Homo sapiens: one gene and its partners. The protein of the gene in region 1 purifies or fractionates together with the protein of each later gene. This does not show direct contact. Each region holds a gene or a part of one and is shown in the gene's direction. Other genes may lie near its edges.

Evidence for each region. The genes of interacting proteins can lie anywhere in the genome.
Region 2: the proteins of BHLHE23 (region 1) and LUC7L purify together in Homo sapiens (affinity purification with mass spectrometry; one large-scale study listed by BioGRID and IntAct). This does not show direct contact.
Region 3: the proteins of BHLHE23 (region 1) and LBR purify together in Homo sapiens (affinity purification with mass spectrometry; one large-scale study listed by BioGRID and IntAct). This does not show direct contact.
Region 4: the proteins of BHLHE23 (region 1) and SPTBN2 purify together in Homo sapiens (affinity purification with mass spectrometry; one large-scale study listed by BioGRID and IntAct). This does not show direct contact.

What each region holds. Positions count from the first base shown.
Region 1 is NC_000020.11:63,004,410-63,009,138, reverse strand, and holds BHLHE23 (class E basic helix-loop-helix protein 23), read left to right. Parts: upstream 1-2,174; 5' UTR 2,175-2,364; coding exon 2,365-3,090; 3' UTR 3,091-3,212; downstream 3,213-4,729. UniProt on the Homo sapiens protein: May function as transcriptional repressor. May modulate the expression of genes required for the differentiation and/or maintenance of pancreatic and neuronal cell types. May be important for rod bipolar cell maturation.
Region 2 is NC_000016.10:197,942-203,117, reverse strand, and holds part of LUC7L (putative RNA-binding protein Luc7-like 1), read left to right. Parts: intron 1-3,879; coding exon 3,880-4,056; intron 4,057-5,176. UniProt on the Homo sapiens protein: May bind to RNA via its Arg/Ser-rich domain.
Region 3 is NC_000001.11:225,407,031-225,412,206, reverse strand, and holds part of LBR (delta(14)-sterol reductase LBR), read left to right. Parts: intron 1-766; coding exon 767-870; intron 871-1,790; coding exon 1,791-1,916; intron 1,917-5,176. UniProt on the Homo sapiens protein: Catalyzes the reduction of the C14-unsaturated bond of lanosterol, as part of the metabolic pathway leading to cholesterol biosynthesis.
Region 4 is NC_000011.10:66,697,709-66,702,884, reverse strand, and holds part of SPTBN2 (spectrin beta chain, non-erythrocytic 2), read left to right. Parts: intron 1-1,163; coding exon 1,164-1,301; intron 1,302-1,602; coding exon 1,603-2,359; intron 2,360-3,276; coding exon 3,277-3,479; intron 3,480-3,802; coding exon 3,803-3,893; intron 3,894-4,099; coding exon 4,100-4,246; intron 4,247-4,716; coding exon of another isoform or gene 4,717-5,040; exon of another isoform or gene 5,041-5,176. UniProt on the Homo sapiens protein: Probably plays an important role in neuronal membrane skeleton.

The sequences.
Region 1 (4,729 bases):
GTTTCGTGCGCCTCACCCCTCACCCCCTGCCCATCCCTGCCTCCAACCCTCTGAGCCAAGGTCGATCGATTCTACTGAAGATTAACTGGGCCTGGGAACTGGCCCAGAGCCCTGGCTCCCTGCTGGGGAGTTCGGACCTCCCAAAGCCCCGGCCCAGCCCCAACCCCAGCCCCATGGCGTCAGCGTCTCTGGCTTTAATGGGGACCCTGCTCCAGCCGATGCTTTGAAAGCCACTCTCACCCACACCCGTGATGTCAATTACCGCGTACCCCTCAGAGGCCTCCCCACCAGCGCTGGCTGCACCTCCCCTCGGGGGCCTCCTGCATTCTCCAGCTCCATAGCTTTCCCTCCTGGTCAACCCCATCCTCCTGCTCCCCCAGCTCCGGGGACCTGTGGAGCCACCTTCCCCCATGGCCCCCACCAGCCCTGCAGTTCAGGCCCAGGAGGAGGCCCCGCAGCCCCGGACCGCACCGGCAGCAGTGCCAGAGTGGCTCTCCGAATGGCCACGGCGCCTTTCTTCCCATAAAGACCAAACTCCCCGCGTGATTCAAACTGTCCCACAGGCCTGGTCCCGCCCCTCTATCTCCTGGCCCCACCCGGGCCCCTCACTGCCCTTCCCTGTGCCAGGCCTCCTCCGGCCACCTGAATGCTCCCCCGACCCCGGCCCGTGGCCACAATGACACCCACTCACCCTTCAGACCCAGGCCCAAACACAGCGGCCTCCTCCACACCAGGTATCCTCAATTCCCGGTCTGTGCATCAGCCCCGAAGGCGGGGTGGGGTCCCAGGACAGCGCCTCAGACAGACGCTTCCATCCTCGGGGCCCCTGCGCTCCTGGCGGGCGTGTGCTGGGGGTGAGGCCGGTGCTGCAGGACGCGCAGCCAGACAGGCCGCCAGCCCGGCAGAGGCTGCCTCAGACCCATTCCCCTCCGCCAGGACAAAGGCCTGAGTTTCCCACGGAGACTTATCCATGCATCTGTCTCCTCACACCCCGCACCTGGCAGGGAACCACCGGACAGGCCGGTCACTGCTGCGTTCCCAGAACCTTCCAGACAGCACATCCGCCCCACACACGTGCAGCTCCCACTCCCCTCCCGGGGCTGCGCACACTGCCCCATCGCTGTGGCTCCTCCTGGGGCGGAGCCTGGAGAACAGGGAGGGTATGCGGCCCTTCCCAGGTCACACAGAAGGGCCCGACGGGCCGCTCCACCTCGTGCCATAGGCCAGGGTGGCCCAGTCTCCCACCCAAGCCAGGACCGGAGAAGCCACTATCCCTCAGCACACTCTAGCCTCAGCACTCGGCCGGGCCTCCAGGCAGGTTCCCACCTGGGAGAAGGGCTGGGGTTCTGGCCTTCATGCGGGGTTGGAAGAGGACTGAAAAGGCGAGTCCGAGGCTGGCCACATTCCCATCCAGTGTGGCTGGACCCCAGGGGTTCGGAGGCTCCGGGAAAGCCCACCAAGCCTCACGCGTTTCGCTGATAGATGCCCAGGAAGCGGCTGGCAGGGAAGAGGCGGTCCTGCAGCTCACAGAGCTCCCCTCCCACCCCCGGGGAGCCCCAGGCCGCGCTGCCCTCCACCTTCCCGCCCTCCCCGGCCTGCAACGCTCGTGGCGTTTTTCAACAGGTTCTAGAAACTCCCTCTCACTCTGCCCCTCAAGCCTGGCCACAGGGCGCCCCGAGCAGGGAGTGTGCGGGCTCCGGGTACACGCTGCGCCGCGGCTGCACCAGAGCGCCCACGACCCTGACCCCGACCCGAAGCGGCCCCTCAGCGGGACAGGGTGTTGGCGCTGGCGCTGCTGCTATTGCGGCGCGCCCCCCCGCTCTGGCCCCTGCGTGTCGCCAGGGACTCTTGCGCTAGGGTCAGACTCAAAGACGGACCGAGGCGGGTGCCCACCTGGGACGCGTGCGTTTGGTGGCGGAATCCCCGGGGCGGCCGGAGGCGGCGGCCGGGGAGTCGAGAAGCAAGTACTAGCGCTCCAGGACCGCGCGCGCCGCCCCGCGCCGCCCCGCGCCGCCCCTCGGTCCAGAGCCCCCACCCCCGGCCTGTGAGCCTGCGGCGCTGGTGGAGCCCGGCTCCAGGAAGAGGAGCTCACCCGGTCCCCCCTGATTGGACAGCAGCGAGGTCCCACCGGGCGCCTCCGCGGCTTAAAACCGAAGCGGGGGCGAGGGGGAGGTAGAGCCCGCCCCCTGCGCGTCGCGGCTGGGAGGGAGAGGAGGTGGGAGAGAAGGAAGAGGCGGAGGAGGCAGCGGGCGCCGAGGCTCTGGGACCCGCAGGCAAGCCAGACCGACGCGCAGAGCCGGGAGCCTCATCGCAGCGGCAGCGGCAGCGGCGGGCTCGGGCCGGCCTCGGGGGCTGCTCACCCACATGAGCATCCGCCCACCCGGCGAGCCCCCGAGCCCAGGCGGCGCGGCCATGGCCGAGCTCAAGTCGCTGTCGGGGGACGCGTACCTGGCACTAAGCCACGGCTACGCGGCGGCGGCTGCGGGTCTCGCCTACGGGGCGGCGCGAGAACCCGAAGCGGCCCGCGGCTACGGCACTCCGGGCCCGGGCGGCGACCTCCCCGCGGCGCCTGCACCTCGCGCCCCAGCTCAGGCGGCGGAGAGCAGCGGCGAACAGAGCGGGGACGAGGACGACGCCTTCGAGCAGCGGCGGCGGCGGCGCGGGCCAGGGAGCGCGGCGGACGGGCGGCGGCGGCCGCGAGAGCAGCGGTCTCTGCGGCTCAGCATCAACGCGCGCGAGCGGCGGCGCATGCACGACCTAAACGACGCGCTGGACGGGCTGCGAGCCGTCATCCCCTACGCGCACAGCCCGTCGGTGCGCAAGCTCTCCAAGATCGCCACGCTGCTGCTCGCCAAGAACTATATCCTCATGCAGGCGCAGGCCCTGGACGAGATGCGGCGCCTGGTGGCCTTCCTCAACCAGGGCCAGGGCCTGGCCGCGCCCGTAAACGCCGCGCCCTTGACGCCCTTCGGCCAGGCCACTGTGTGCCCCTTCTCCGCAGGCGCCGCCCTGGGGCCCTGCCCTGACAAGTGCGCCGCCTTCTCCGGGACGCCCTCCGCGCTTTGCAAACACTGTCACGAGAAGCCGTGACCGCGCGGGCCCCCGGCCCTCCCGCACGCGTCCTCCGATCGCCCCTGTGACTGTCTCTCTGCCCGGACAGGAAAGGCCTGGAGGGACCCTGCAGACCAGGAGGAGGGGGCCCGACTTCGCTTCCAGCCTGTGCGCGGTGGACAGTTTAGCGCAGCGGGAAGCGCCAAGGCCGTCGGGGCGCGGGATTGAGCTCGAGAGCCGGACGCTGGACTCTGCGCCCGGGAACTCGCGGCACCCACTGGGTATTGTCGGGACCCAGCAAGTCTAGGAACGGGGGTGGGTAGAGCATCCTTCGGGCACTGCCGTTCGTCCCCAAAAGAAGACCACCGCGGGGTCCCAGGGCCACGGCGAGGACGGGCACTGGTCAGATTCCGGACAGGCGGTCCTGGCCCCGGGCGCACGAAAGGTGGAGACGAAGAAAAGCCGGACTTACTGGCTCCTGATCCTCTTGCAGTGGGCCTCGCGCTCCCGCTCCAGCCGGCCCTTCGTGCTAAACTGCAGGGCAGTGCTCTGTTCCTGAGGACGCGCGTGGCCGGCACCTCCCACCTCGGTGACTCCGAGACTCCGCAGCCCTGCGGAGAGCCCACGATGGCCGTCTGCAGAGGAGCTGGACCGCGGGCGCAGGAAGACCCCGGGGAAGGCCTTTTCCAAGTAGGAGTTTGTTCTATTTATTTGGGAATTGGACGCCGTCGCCGGCTGCCTCGAAGTCTGAGGAATTTGTCCCCTAAATGTCCCCTGGCCTCCCCCCCCCGCCGCCATCCGCTGCCTGGGACGTCCGCGGGGTGGAGTTGGATGGAGACCGCTTTGCGGGCCCTCTGCCTCGGGGGGCTGCGTGGAGGAGGGTCCTCACAGCCCGCGCCCTACTTAACCCTGACGGTCAGGGGAGGGCCCCGTCTAGCCCTGGTGTCCAGCAAACCCCCTCCCCACCGATCCCCTCTCCCTTCCGAGGGAGGAGGCCGGGCTACGGGTGAGTAAGCTGCTGCGGGCCCCGTGCCCCGCCGGGTGTGAACGGAGATGCGCTGCGCAGTGCCCGTCCTGCGCAGCTCCCAGCTCTGCCACCATCCGGGATCCAGGGAGCCGGGCAGGGTGCCCCCGGGGACCCATCTGTCCGCGCCGGTTTGCGCCCCGCGGCCCCGCCGCAGTATCCGGCTTTATTAACCCAATTTCCTCGGCTGTCGGTAATGCCAAGGGGAGAGGGCCGCCGCCCTGCAACGCGCCTGTCTACAGCGTTTAACTCTGATTAATACATTCCACAGGGCCTTCTGTACTTGCAAAATCAAGTGTATGGTTAAGTCTTATTCATAAAGACATATGCCTAATACTGGTTTCTGCTAATTTCCACTTTTATTTCTTCATTGTCTTTTTTTTTTCCCCTAACAGACTAGTTTATCAGTTTTGCACATTCGAAAAGCTGAGTGCCAGACACCGTTTTTCCCCTTTTAGATAAAGTGGGAAAGCTGGAAACTCAAATGCCCTTCACTTCTAGGGTCATTTCAACGTGATCTTAAATAAATTACCTGCTTATCAGAATTTGAAACAGGGGTGTTTATTCTGGTTAAAATCAGAGACATTGGTACATCATTTATATTCAGAATAAAGCATTTTATTGCCATTTATTTTATAAAAATAATATGGTTAA
Region 2 (5,176 bases), on another chromosome or scaffold:
GGAGTGCGGTGGTGCGATGGCTCGCTGCAACCTCCAACTCCTGGGTTCAACTGATTATCCTGCCTCAGCCTCCTGAGCAGCTGAGATTACAGGTGCCTGCCACCATGCCCAGCTAATTTTTGTATTTTTAGTAGAGAAGACGGGGTTTCACCATGTCGGTCAGGCTGGTCTCAAACTCCTGACCTCAAGTGATCCACCTGCCTCAGCCTCCCACAGTGCTGGGATTACAGGCGTGAGCCACTGCTCCTGGCTGTCTTTGAAGGGATCGGTCCATTTCATCTAGTTTATCGCTTTTGTGGGCATGGAGTTGTTGTTTTTAAGAGTTGTTTGTATTATTCCTTTAAAGTGGGTGGATCCGTAATGATGTCCTGTCTTTCATTTCTGATATTAGTACAGTCATATCTTTCTTAATGACAAGGATTAAATATTCTGAGAAGTGCGTTCCATGGTTCATCATTGTGAGAACATTATAGAGTGTGCTTAACAAACCTGGGTGGTATAGCCATGTGGGCTGTATGGTAGAGCCCATTGCTCCTAGGCTCCACACCTGTACAGCATGTTACTGTGCTGAATACTATAGGCAGTTGCAACACAGTGGGCCCCTAAATATTTGTGTACGTAAACATAGAAAAGGTACAGTAAAAATACAGTATAAAAGATAAAAAATAACACTTGATACGGTTTGGATGTGTGGCACGTCCAAATCTCATGTTGAAATGTGACCTCCAATGTTGGAGGTGGGGTCTAGTGGGAGGTGTTTGGGTCATGGGGGTGGTTCACTCATCAATGGCTTGGTGCCCTCCCTGGGATAGTGAGTTCACCTCAGAGCTGATTGTTTAAAGGAGCCTAGGTCCTTCTCTCTGTCTCACTCCTTCTTTTGCCATGTGATATGCTGACTCCCCTTTTGCTGCCTTCTGCCCAGCGTAAAAGCTTATGGAGGGTGGGTATGGTGGCTCATGCCTGTAATCTCAACACTTTGGAAGGTCGAGGCAGGAGGATTGCTTGAGTCCAGGAGTTTGAGACCAGCCTGGGCAACATAGGGATACCCCATCTTTACAAAGAAATTAAAAATATGGCCGGGCACGGTTGCTCATGCCTGTAATCCCAGCACTTTGGGAGGCCAAGGTAGGTGCATCACCTGAGGTCAGGAGTTCGAGACCAGCCTGGCCAACTTGGTGAAACCCCATTTCTACTAAAAGTATAAAAATTAGCCAGGTGTGGTGGCGGGCACCTGTAATCCCAGCTACTTGGGAGGCTGAAGTAGGAGAATCGCTTGAACCCAGAAGGCGGAGGTTGCAGCGAACAGAGATCGTGCCATTGCACTCCAATATGGGTGACAGAGCAAGACTCTCTCTCAAAAAAAAAAAAAAAAAAAAAAAAGCCTGGTGCGGTGGCTCACGCCTGTAATCCCATCACTTTGGGAGGCTGAGGCGGGTGGATCACGAGGTCAGGAGATCGAGACCATCCTGGCTAACATGGTGATACTCCGTCTCTACTAAAAATACAAAAAATTGGCCGGGCGTGGCGGCGTGCGCTTGTAGTCCCAGCTACTCAGGAGGCTGAGGCAGGTGAATGGTGTGGACCCGGGAGGCAGAGCTTGTAGTGAGCTGAGATCGTGCCACTGCATTCCAGGCTGGGCGACAGAGCGAGACTCCGTCTCAAAAAAAAAAAAAAAGTTATGTAAATGGAATCATACAGTAGGTAACCTTTTGGGACTGACTTTTTTTACTCAACATAATCAGAGTTTATTTTGAAAGATGTTAGAAGGTGGCATTTAAGGTTTCAAAACTATAGAAGGGGACAGAGTAATGTTATGAATATTTGTGTACCACAATATTGTTTTTGCTTAAGTTTTTTTTTTTTTTTTTTTTTTTTAGTTATGTAGCATACTATAATGGAAATTCAAGTTCTTGCTAGTTCCTTGTCTACTTTTTTTTTTTTTTTTTTCTCAGACAGAGTCTCGCTCTGTCGCCCAGGCTGGATTGCTGTGGTGCGATCTCGGCTCACTGCATCCTCTGACTCCCGGGTTCAAGTAATTCTCAGACTCAGCCTCCCGAGTAGCTGGGATTACAGGTGCCAGCCACCGTGCCCAGCTAATTTTTTTGTATTTTTAATAGAGACGGGGTTTCACCTTCTCGGACTCCTGACCTTGTGATCCACCTGCCTTGGCCTCCCAAAGTGCTGGGATTGCAGGTGTTAGCCACTGTGCCCAGCCTATTTTTTTTAATATTAGAGGGTCCTGCTGTCAGCCAGGGTCACCCAGGCTGAAGTACAGTGGCGCAGTCACAGGTCACTGCCCCTTCAACCTCCTGGGCTCAAGCAGTCCTCTCGAATCAGTCTCTTGAGTAGGTGGGACTATAGGCACGTGCCACCACAGCGGGCTAATTATTTTCTTATTTTTAGAGACTGAGTCTTGCTGTGTTGCTCAGGGTGATCTCAATCTCCTGGGGCCAAGTGATCTTCTTGCTTCACTCTCCTAAAGTGCTGAGATTATAGGTGTGAGTCACTACACCAGGCCTGGAATACAATTTTTTTTTTTTCCTTTTTGGAGTTTTCCTCTGTCCTCCAGGTTGGAATGCAGTGGTGTGATCTCAGCTCACTGCAACCTCCACCTCCTGGGCTTAAACAATTTGTGCCTCAGCCTCTCCAGTAGCTGGAATTACAGATGCCTGCCACCATCTGGCTTTTTTTTTTTTTTTTTCTTTTGAGACGGAGTCTCGCTCTTTCGCCCAGTGGCATGATCTTGGCTCACTACAAGCTCCGCCTGCCGGGTTCACGCCATTCTCCTGCCTCAGCCTCCTGAGTAGCTGGGACTACAGGCGCCCGCCACCACGCCCAGCTAATTTTTTCTGTTTTTTTAGTAGAGACGGGGTTTCACCGTGTTAGCCAGGATGGTCGTGATCTCCTGACCCCATGATTCGCCTGCCTCAGCCTCCCAAAGTGCTGGGATTACAGGCGTGAGCCACCGCGCCCGGCCAATTTTTGTATTTTTAGTAGAGACAGGGTTTTGCTATGTTGCCAGGCTCGTCTTGAACTCCTGGCCTCAAGTGATCTGTCTGCCTTGGCCTCGGAATGCTGGGATTACAGGCGTGAGCCACTGAGCCCAGCCTGTTAGTACCTTTTTTTTTTAAGATGGAGTCTCGCTCTGTTGCCAGGCTGGAATGCAGTGGCACGGTTTTGGCTCACTGCAACCTCCGCTTCCCAGGTTCAAGTGATTCTCCTGCCTCAGCCTCCTGAGTAGCTGGGACTACAGGCATGTGCCACCACACCCAGCTGATTTTTGTATTTTTAGTAGAGACGGGGTTTCACAAAGTTGGCCAGGATGGTCTCGATCTCTCTTTTTTTTTTTTTTTTTTTTTTTGAGACAGGGTTTTGCTCTTGTTGCCTGTGCGATCTCAGCTCAACAGCAACCTCCGCCTCCCGAGTTCAAGCCATTCTCCTGCCTCAGCCTCCAGAATAGCTGGGATTACAGGCATGCGCCACCACACCCGGCTACTTTTGTATTTTTAATAGAGATGGGGTTTCTCCATGTTGGTCAGGCTGATCTTGAACTCCGGACCTCAGGTGATCCGCCAGCCTCAGCCTCCCAAAGTGCTGGGATTACAGGCGTGAGCCACCGCGCCTGGCCTGGTCTTGATCTCTTGACCACATGGTCCGCCCACCTGGCCTCACAAAGTGCTGGGACCGTGCCTGGCCGCGTTTCTTAAATAAACAGTGAAAATTGAGTTGGTTATAAATATCTGAAGTTTTGTTTGTGTTTTTTTAATATTTGTTTAAAAGTCACCTCTGTCATCTTATCAAATATTTTCATTTTGGAGATTGAATTTGTGGTGGCAGTTCTATATACCTCACTTTTATTTCTCCATTTTCCTTCTTCAGGAAGAATACAGAAATTCCATGCCTGCATCCAGTTTTCAGCAGCAAAAGCTGCGTGTCTGCGAGGTCTGTTCAGCCTACCTTGGTCTCCATGACAATGACCGTCGCCTGGCAGACCACTTCGGTGGCAAGTTACACTTGGGGTTCATTCAGATCCGAGAGAAGCTTGATCAGTTGAGGGTATGTTCATCTGTTTCTGGAGAAAGCTGAGGAGTCTTGGGGTGTTTTCACATTTCTTTAATTTTTAAAAACCTTATGTTTTGGCCGGGCGTGGTGGCTGATGCCTATAATCCCAGCACTTTGGGAGGCCGAGGTGGGCGAATCACCTGAGGTCAGGAGTTCGAGACCAGCCTGACCAACATGGTGAAACCCCGTCTCTACCGAAAAATTAGCCAGGTGTGTTGGTGTGAGCCTGTAATCTTAGGTACTCGGGAGGCTGGGGCAGAAGAATTGCTTAAACCCAGGAGGCAGAGGTTGCAGTGAGCCGAGATCATGCCATTGCATTCCAGCCTGGGCTATAGAGTAAGACTCCATCTCAAAAAAAAAACAAAAAACATTATGTTCTGATCTCTAAGAACTTGAGTTTTATAGTGAAATACGCAGATTTCATCACTTGGATTCACACAAGAGACATGATAGCTCAGAGTCCAAAGGAGCCTTGGAGATTTATTTTGGACCCTGTCGTTAAGGGAAGAAAATGGCAGAGCCTGTTCCCAGAATACATACAGCTCGTTGTGTATCTCTGAAATAACTTCTGTTAGGAGATGAGAAAGAATCTCTGGTTGGTCAAGACAGAGTGTCACACATCCTGGCTCCTTGCCTATGAGCCACCTCAGAAGGGCGGGGTGAAGATGGGGTTTTTCTGGTAGCATTGTACCATCCCAGCCCAGAGAAAACCTCTGTTCCTTCTTCAAGACTCTAAGACATTTAAAAACTTTTTTTTTTTTTTTTTTTTTTTTTTTTGAGATGGAGTCTCGCTCTGTCGCCCAGGCTGGAGTGCAGTGGCCCAATCTCGGCTTACTGCAAGCTCCGCCTCCCAGGTTCACACCATTTTCCTGCCTCAGCCTCCACAGTAGCTGGGACTACAGGTGCCTGCCACCACGCCCGGCTAATTTTTGTTGTTGTTGTTGTATTTTTAGTAGAGACGGGGCTTCATCGTGTTTGCCAGGATGGTCTCGATCTCCTGACCTCGCGATCCGCCCGCCTCAGCCTCCCAAAGTGCTGGGACCACAGGCGTGAGCCACCGCACCCGGCCGACATTTAAAAACTTTAAGTACGGAATGCTAAGAAGGAAGGTTGG
Region 3 (5,176 bases), on another chromosome or scaffold:
TTAGTAAACTTACAGGCATTTTGACTTATGACAAATATTATTTCTTTGTCCAAAATAGTAAACACTCTTTAAAAAACAAAAAACAACAGAGGTTACTGGCCGGGTGAGGTGGCTCATGCCTGTAATCCCAGCACTTCGGGAGGCCAAGGCGGGTGGATCACCTGAGGTCAGGAGTTTGAGACCAGCCTGGCCAATATGGTGAAACCCCATCTCTACTAAAAATACAAAAATCAGCTGGGCGTGGTGGTGCACACCTATAATCCCATCTACTCGGGAGGCTGAGGCAAGAGAATCGCTTGAGCGTGGGAGGCGGAGGTTGCAGTGAGCCGAGACTGTGCCACTGCACTGTAGCCTGGGCCACAGAGCGAGGCTCCATCTCAAAACAAAACAAACAAAAAACAAGAGAAACGAGAGGTTACAAATTGGTTGATGCTGACCTGAAGTATTTCAATATAAAAAAATGTCGCCTATCTAAAAAAAATGGAGTGTAAAGTCCTTTGGGGGGGCCCCCATGATTTTGGTTAACTTTTTTAAGAAACCTGGGCCCCCGGCTCCCCCAAAGGCTGGAGCAACTGCCTTTTCAGTCGGGCAGGCATCTCCTGGTTCCGCTCGTCTGTGCCGTCCTGTCTGCCTCTCACCACCAGAGCCCTGCTCAGGGTCTTGCAGGCAGTGGAATTGTGAGCCTGGATAGTGGGCGGCAGTGCCGTTGTAAAGCCTCCTGACTGGGTTTGGAATGCTGTTTGGGTAAACACTTTTCCTTTCTCAGGAAATGCTGTCTATGATTTCTTCATTGGCCGTGAATTAAACCCTCGAATTGGTACTTTTGATCTCAAATACTTTTGTGAATTGCGCCCCGGATTGATTGGATGGGTATGTCTGGTTTTTTTTCTTCTAAATTTCAATTCAATAGGTCTAATTAACTGCTAGAAAGAAATGTAGACCATTCAAAAATAAGCAGTGGGTGGTATATTTTTAGGGATAATTATGGCTTTCCATAAATCTATCAAAATACTTTCTTGTAAGTATTTTCCAGAGGTTTAAGATGCCCTGTTACAGGTTATGACAAATTAAATAACTTTTCTTTGCTTTATTTTTATTATATCAGTTTATATTTATGTAGGAAAGTGATAGTGTGGATGAATTAATGTAAGAAAAAATGCATTTTCCTCCTTTTTAAATTTTACCTAGTTTTAGGCTTGGAGTTGCAGATAGAGAGCAAAGAGTTCCCTTCCACCCTTCATTCTGTTTCTCACAACATTAACCTTGGAGGAAACCGTAGTGTAGTGATGAAGAACAGCAGATTAACATAGTGACAGCATTGGTTACCAAGTCCACAGGCCTCAGTCGAGTTCACCAGTTTTTCCGCTGTTGTCCTTTTTCTGTTCCAGGAACCTCGACAGGACTCCACAATACATTTAGTTGTTATTCCTTCTTAGTCTTCTCTAGTCTAATAGTTGTTTAGGCTTTCCTTGTCTCTCATGACCTTGATACTTTTTGGAAGGTACTGGTTGGTTATTTTGTAAGTGTCCCTCAGTTTGGGTCATTCCAGTGTTCTCTTTGATTGCGGTAAAGTTACCCACTGTGACAGGAACACAGAAATGATAGCTGTGTCCTTCTCAGTGCATTGGGTCCAGGGGCCCATGGTGCTGAGATGTCTTATTCCTGGTGGCGGGTAGGAGTTACGGTGGCGTCTGCCAGGTGTCTCAGCTGTGAAGCTCACTCATGCCTTTGTAGTGCTAAGGTCTCTGGGGAGGTGCTTTGAGGCTATATACTTTCCCCTTTTGTTTCAGGTGGTTATTAACTTGGTGATGCTTTTGGCTGAAATGAAAATACAGGACCGCGCTGTTCCATCCTTGGCCATGATTTTAGTTAATAGTTTCCAGCTTCTCTATGTGGTGGATGCTCTCTGGAATGAGGTAATTAATTTTAAGAGCCGAGGCCTTGGAGTCAGATGGCTTTGAGTGGGTGAGTGACCTGTCAGAGCCTCGGCTTCTTGCACACAAAGTGAGGGGAGCATGGCCTGCCTCCAAGGCTGCTTGAGAGGAGGACGAGGCCATCCATGTGAAGCTGACGAGGGAGCACTGACAGGTGGGAAGTTTCTAGGCATTTGGGAGTGCTTCAGTGTTTATCAGCTGTTCTTGTGTTTAAAAGTAATATTCTAAATATTTAAGATTGGTGGATCTTGGTTTTGTTTTTGTGGGTGGTGGTAATTATGGTATCACATGAAAATGGATGGATTATTACTAAATTAGAATGGTGTTTCTTGGACTGTCAAGAGTCACCTAGTTTTTAAATAATGGGGGAGATGTTTTATTGTTAATGTTTTAAAATACAAAGACTAGCTCTAATTAGATGAATGTAAAATCAGAAATCAAGATGCATTGAGGAAACCAGTTGAAATAAGGCTAAGTTTCCATCTTGTGTCTTTTTTCATACATTGATTAGTCTTTCTACTAGTTGAAGACTGGTAAATGTTTTGTTTGTTTTCTCTGTCTCAGCCAGCATATTCCTTTTAAAAATTTTGTCTTCCTCAGGCTTATTTTACAAGTATTTTATCGTATTTACTGTTATCTTTGTAATTATCTCCAAATTCCAACTCTAGTTTTCTTTCCATATTAAAAACAAATCTGGCAGCTGTACATCATAATGTTCCAAAACAAGTTTTAGTGACAGTCTGTTGAGACAATCTGCTGACATTTTGAGAGAAGACCTTTTCTCTTTGAGCCTGGAACATTAAAAAAAATTATATTATTTGGTCATCAATACTATGTATCTCCCCCACCCCTGCTGGCTGGTCTTTAATTTTGGCCTTCTATGCAAAATTGCAGAGAACATTTAGTCAGAACAACTTCGCAAGTTTGATATTGGTGTTTCGATGATCTCCTTGTTATTTAGGAAGATTAGGGCCACTTTGAGGTAAACCTCAATTACAAGCGGTGGGATTAGTGCTATCCGCTAATTACGGGTTCCTGTTGCGCTCCTACCACTTCACAGACCCTGGCTCAGAGCTTGGGAAGCTGTGAAGGTGGTGATAACACTTCAAATTGACTTTAAAAATTCCACGTCGACCCAAAATTAAACATGTTTTTGAAATTAAAAAACAACTGTTTTGTAAATGCACTTACTGTTACCAGTGTAGCTTTGTTTGCTGTTATAGAATGAATCGCCAAAAGAGCATATAGGTTACAGTTTGCAAATCAAATGATATTTCACAGTTGTGCTCACCTCAGAGGCTTCTTTAAACCTTCCTTTCTAGTAGCTTTCCACTGATCAGTGATTATTTCTTCTGGTTTCTTCTATTACTAGCTTTCTGCCATGTTGTGGTTGTCACTTTTTAATTGGCTTAGAAGTTGATATTTTCTATAGATTTAGCCAAACATTGACTTGTGTTAAAAGAAAATTTTTTGCATCTTAAGGCAAAACGCTTAATGCAATATTAACATAGCCCCAGGGGTAGAGAACTAGAGTTAGGAAATTGTTTTCTGTCTGTTCTCAGTATCTCAGCCAGATGATAATAAGCTTCTTGAGGAAAGATTGTATTTTATGATTTCTTCAGCATTCTGGCATGCCACTGGGCAATTAGCAGATGCTTAATAACTTCTGTCAGGTCACTTGATAGAAATCCCTCTGTATTCAAGAATGTGCTATACCTTAAGAAAACTGAGACTACCTGTTTAAATATGCATGACCCTTCCTCTGAGCCGTCCTGTGAAAGCCTTGGGGCTCAGGAGCTGGTGGGGCTAAGGTCCTCCCCCTACCCGGCATTGGGTGCTTACCCTTTGCCCTCTCACTGCCACTCACCACACCTGCTTTTATCTGCTCCCACCAATTTGTCACCTTTATCCTCTTTTGGACCAGGAATCAGATCACAGGCCTTGAGAGAGAAGAATAAGACACTCTTGGGGACAGAAAGTTAAAACACCGTGTGTCCTCACTTATATGTGGGCGCTAAAAAAGTTGATGTCATAGAAGTATAAAGTAGAACAGAGGATATGGGAAGGTGGGAAGGGTAGGGGGAAGGGAAGGATAGGGAGAGGTTTGTTAAAGGATACAAAATTACCACTCGATAGGAGGAGTAAGTTCTAAGTTCTAGTATTCTATACCACTGTAGGATGACTATAGTTAACAGTGATACATAGTTTCAAATAGCTAGAAGGATATTGAATATTCCTAACACAAAGAAAGAATGTGTTTGAGATGATGGATATGCTAATTACCTTGATTGGATTACTATATATTACATGTATTGCAACATCACTGTGTACCCCATAAATATGTACGATTATTACATGTCAATTTTTTTTTTTAAAGAGAATAAAGTACTCTGGTTAACTAAAGAGTATAAGCCTAAGGAGCTAGATTTTGTGAGATTGGTTTTTCTGTTTCATGTGACATCTGTTTTTCTGTTCCATGGCCTATTTGCTTTCTTTTCTGGAAAAAAATGCTATTTAGAGGTACCACTCTTTTTCTTTAACCTAGAACTTTGATTCTCCAACAGAGCTTATACTGGCTAATATTTCTACATCAGTGGTCTGTACTGAGGTTCTGGGTAGTTTAGAGATTCCCTTAGGCCAGACCTTCAGAGTGTTGACCTTGGTGGTGGTTCCGTATTCTAGAGTCTGGCCTGCCCGTATCCTGGGCCAGAGGCGATCTGGCTCATGCTAACCAAATCACCAGGGAGTAATGCACTTTTATTAATTTACATGAGAAGCGAAGCTGTCAGTTCACCATGTTGCCAGGCAGCTTAATTTCTTCTGTGGAAAATGCACATGAAATGCCAGATTATGAACAGAAATTAGATTGGTCCATGTGGAATTGAAACAAAAAGAGTTGGTGATCTTATTCCTTCAGCAAGCATATTTTGAACACTTCTCTCCATGGCGGGCACTGTGCTAGGTACTGGGGTGGCAAAGGTGAAAACACACAGCCTCTGTCTTTTAGAGGCTTTTAGTGTAGTGAAGAGTGACTAGACAAGTACAGTAACCCAATTACTGCAGCCTACTGGTGGGTGGTGATATCTGAGAAGTGCCCAGGTCTGAGCAGCAGGTCAGGAGGGCAGCAGAGGGTGTAGGGCCTATGTGGAGGTTGGAGGAGGGGTTGTCAGCAGAGGGGAGGGCCTGGGCATGGGGGCATGGGAGATGCTTTAGAGATCTGTTATCTCCAGAGCATGAGCGAG
Region 4 (5,176 bases), on another chromosome or scaffold:
CTCACTGCAAGCTCCGCCGCCCGGGTTCACGCCATTCTCCTGCCTCAGCCTCCCAAGTAGCTGGGACTACAGGCACCCGCCACCACACCTGGCTAATTTTTTGTATTTTTAGTAGAGACGAGGTTTCACCGTGTTAGCCAGGATGGTCTCGATCTCCTGACCTTGTGATCCACCCATCTCAGCCTCCCAAAGTGCTGGGATTACAGGCGTGAGCCACCATGCCCGGTCTGTAAATAAAGTTTTACTGGAACAGAGCTACACTCGCCCTTTTGCGTATTGCCCGTGGCTGCTTTCAGGCTACAGCAGCAGGGCTGAATAGTTGCCGCAGCAGCTGCATGGCTCACGAAGCCTATAATATTTACCATCAAGCCCTTCACAGAAAACATTTGCAGACCCTGCCCTATTAGAACATCAAATGTCGGCCAGGCGAGGTGGCTCACGCCTGTAATCCCAGCACTTTGGGAGGCCAAGGCGGGTGGAGCATGAGGTCAGGAGTTCAAGACCAGCCTGGCCAAGATAGTGAAACACCCGTCTCCACCAAAAATACAAAAATTAGCTAGGCTTGGTGGCGGGCACCTGTAATCCCAGCTATTCGGGAAGCGGAGGCAGAAAATTGCTTGAACCCGGGAGGCGGAGGTTGCAGTGAGTCGAGATTGCACCACTACACTCCAGCCTGGGTGACAGAGCGAGACTCCATCTCAAAAACAAAACATAAAATGTCCCTGGAAGAAGTTATCCTTCACATTTTCATCACTCAGACAAATATTTTTGGTTATTACTTCATTTTCTAACACATATTAGTGGGATGAGACCCAGATAGGCAGCTAAGGGGGAAGTCCCAGGAGGCTGAGCAGCTCTGATAAAGGGTTGGCCCCATGCCAGGGTCTAGTTTGACTTGTGTGTCTGTTCCTGACCTTTACCTTTCACCATCTTTTGAGCATTTCTAGCGATGACAGTTATTCTGCTTGTTTTGGGGGAGTTGTGGGTTCCTTCCTTGATGCACAGATACTATGAACCTCATAGGCTGAGAGGCAGAGAGACTCCTGCAGATAAGCCTCCTGGTGAAGGAGACACCCTCCTGGGTGTTTAAGAGAGGTGGACTTAGGTGGACTGGGCACATCGCTGCCTCCCACAATTCACGCCTGGCTCTTCCACCCTCTCAGGTTCGAGACCCTGGAGCCTGAAATGAACACCCTTGCAGCACAAATCACCGCGGTGAATGACATTGCCGAGCAGTTACTGAAGGCCAACCCCCCAGGCAAAGACCGCATTGTCAACACCCAGGAGCAGCTCAACCACAGGTGGGTTTGGGAGGGCAGGACCAGGAAACTGACAGAAAAATGAAGCAATGGGGATGGCAGTGAGAGGCAGGTTTTGTAGGGCCTGGAAGGGTGGCTACAAAGGAGGAAGCAAACCAGTCTGGAATATGTTGGGGAAGGAAAAAGGATGAAAGAGATGAGAGAGGGGGTCAAGGTGGTCTGAAGCGGCTGCTGGCCAGAAAGGGAGGAGTGAAGGGGAGCTACCAAGAGAGAGAGAAGCAGGGAAGAAGCTTCCAAACAGGCCTGGCCAGGGCAGGAAGCTGAACCTTCCCCCTGCTCTCAGGTGGCAGCAGTTTCGGCGTCTGGCAGACGGCAAGAAGGCAGCTCTCACCTCAGCCCTGAGCATCCAGAACTACCACTTAGAGTGCACGGAGACCCAGGCCTGGATGAGAGAGAAGACCAAAGTCATCGAGTCCACCCAGGGCCTAGGCAACGATCTGGCTGGGGTGCTGGCCCTGCAGCGCAAGCTGGCCGGCACGGAGCGGGACCTGGAGGCCATCGCCGCCCGGGTGGGCGAACTGACTCGAGAGGCAAATGCCCTGGCTGCCGGCCATCCCGCTCAGGCAGTGGCCATCAACGCCCGGCTGAGAGAGGTGCAGACCGGCTGGGAGGACCTCAGGGCCACCATGCGGCGTCGAGAAGAGTCGCTGGGGGAGGCGCGGCGGCTGCAGGACTTCTTGCGCAGCTTGGATGACTTCCAGGCCTGGCTAGGCCGCACTCAGACTGCTGTGGCCTCTGAAGAAGGGCCGGCCACCCTGCCTGAGGCAGAGGCCCTCCTGGCCCAACATGCAGCCCTGCGGGGAGAGGTGGAGCGGGCCCAGAGCGAGTATAGCCGGCTGCGAGCCCTGGGCGAGGAGGTGACCCGGGACCAGGCTGACCCCCAGTGCCTCTTCCTACGACAGCGACTGGAGGCCCTGGGAACTGGCTGGGAGGAGCTGGGCCGAATGTGGGAGAGCCGGCAAGGTCGCCTGGCCCAGGCCCACGGCTTCCAGGGATTCCTGCGGGATGCTCGTCAGGCTGAGGGCGTGCTCAGCAGCCAGGTGAAAGTCCAGGGCAAAGTCCCAAGCAGGAGGAAGAGCAAAGTAGGGACCCGGGGAAATGTGAAGGAGCAGGATGGGCAGGAAGGACATGCTAGCAAAATGGGGCAGCGCAGTGGTTCACACCTGAAATTCCAGCACTTTGGGAGGCCAAAGTAGGAGGATCACTTGAGGCTGAGAATATCCAGACCAACCTGGGCAACATGGCAAGACCTTGTCTCTACAAAAAAATTTTTTTAAGAAAATAGAAGAATTTTTTAAAAAGAAAAATGGGAGCCAGACAGGATGGCTCACACTTGTACTCCCAGTATTTTGGGAGGCCGAGGCAGGAGAATAACTTGAGCTCAGGAGTTTGAGACCAGCCTGGGCAACATAGTGAGACCCCCATCTCTATGAAAAAAAAAAATTAACTGGACATGGTGGTGCATGCCTGTAGCTCCAGCTACTGGGGAGGCTGAGGCTGGTGGATCACTGGAGCCAGGAGTTTGAGGCTGCAGTGAGCTATGATATGCCACTGCACTCCAACCTGGGCCACAGAATGAAACCCTCTCTCAAAAAAAAGAAAAAGAAAAAAGAAGGAAAAATGAGAATGAAAAAGACGTGAATATAATTTACTAAAACTGACTTTAGAAGAAATAGAAAGCCCAGTTTGTCATGTAACTGTTAAATGGAATCAGGAGCTAGAAGTGAGATAGAACAGGATTTGGGCTGGGGAATGGAAGGTCCTTCCCACCCAGCTTCCCTGTGACTTTCTGAGGCTCCCATGCTGGCTGGCAGCCTCCCTGTCTTCAGAGCTCTCTGGGCTACCCTCCCTGTCTGCTTGTTGGTCCCTACCTCTCAGATTTGCCCCTGGGTGGGTCCCTCCTAGGGGGGTGAATTGTGCTGGGGAAAATGAGCTGAATGTCATCCCTCCCACACAGGAATATGTTCTGTCTCACACGGAGATGCCAGGGACACTCCAGGCTGCTGATGCTGCCATTAAAAAACTGGAGGACTTCATGAGCACCATGGACGCCAATGGGGAACGGATCCACGGGCTCCTGGAGGCTGGCCGCCAGCTGGTATCTGAAGGCAACATCCACGCCGACAAGATTCGGGAAAAGGCAGACTCCATTGAGAGGAGGTCTGATGAGGACAGTCCATGAATTAGGGTTCCCAGGGGGGAATCGGAGAAACAGGGTGACCTCAAAGATAAACGTGGCACAGGAAACCCACAGATGGGGCAGGAGCTGACAGAGAAGTAGAGGGGAAGAACTAAGTGGTTGGAGAGGGCTGGGAGATTCCACCCCCAACCAGGGCTAAAAGGAAGTCAGGATTCCTGGGTAGCCTCATTGTGCTCCCGGAAGGCGTTATTCCCCTAGAAGAAATGGAGGCCCCTAGGTTAGCCAAAGGGTCACAATCCTTTCACAGCAAATTCCAGAGTTTCACAAGAGGGTGTCGTTCCAGGCACAAGAAGAATCAAGACGCAGCGCAGCAATTTCTGGGCCGTCTTCGGGACAACCGGGAGCAGCAGCATTTCCTGCAAGATTGTCACGAGGTGAGGCTCCCTGGGGCCCCGGGATATTCCCTAGCCATCCCTTTCTCACCTTGAGCCTAGAATAAGTCCAGCACAAGGTACCGGAGACTGTGAGCCCCTTCATGGCTTCTTCCCAAGGCGCCCACTTCTCCTGGCTCACTGTGGCCCTGCTTTTATGCCCCCCTCTCCCCTCCCTTGGAAATGTCCCTGTTTTATGTTTGGTCCAGCTGAAGCTCTGGATCGACGAGAAGATGCTGACAGCCCAGGACGTGTCCTATGACGAGGCCCGCAACCTGCATACTAAGTGGCAGAAGCACCAGGCATTCATGGCCGAGCTGGCTGCCAACAAAGACTGGCTGGACAAGGTGGACAAGGTGAGCAGTGCTGTGGGGGCTGCCTCTGGGCAGAGTCCCCCATGGTACGGGGGAGGGCCTGGCTCCAGGACGTGGTTTTTGTCATGGTTAGAGATTGTGGGGTTCTGGTGCCACAGCTCCATGGTGGAAAGTTATGGCCTCTGGGAAACAAACGTCTTTGTTGGAGACAAAGAGTGGGACAGTGAGTCCAGAACCTTGATAAAGTACAAATTAGCAGGTAGCGAAACTGCAGCCTGGATTTAACGCCATAACTGTTCCTGAGTTCAAAGCAGGATGGTGCTCTTCAGCAGGCTCTGCAAACCTTGTCTGGAAAGGGCTTGGGCTGGATGGTCAATATCTGAGGCTTTGCAGTCCAAACAGTTTCTACTACAACTACTCATCTCTGTCGTTGTAGTGCAAAAGCAGCCTCAGAGAATAAGTGAATGAATGAACATGGCTGTTTCCCAATAAAACTTTATTTGTAAAAACAGGCAGTGGGCCAGATTACCCCGTGGGCTGTATGTAGTCTGCCAATCCTTATTTTCGAGTCTTGCCGTCCCTGGTTCTTGGTCTCCCACCCAGCTGTTCCTCAAGAGTCAAGGACAGATAAAGCTTTATATCTGCTCAGCAAGTATCCCTACAGAACATGGTACGTGCTCAACAGTCTGCGAGGCACTGCAGGGTCTACGAAAAGACACTTTCCTTTTCTCAAGGGCATGATGGTTGGGACAAAAGGAGACCAGTGTGCTTTCAAGTGTTTCCATTCGTTCAGCAAATATTTACTTGGTGCTACTATATCCAAAGCATTGTATTAGGCCCTGCGTGGGGTCCGAAAGGGATCCCATGGTAGGCTCCACCCTGAAGGAACAACACTGTAGCCAGGATATGAGGCATATATGCAGGTAGCTAAATCGAATCCAGAGCAGAATCTGATGAGTGCTGTGAGAGTGG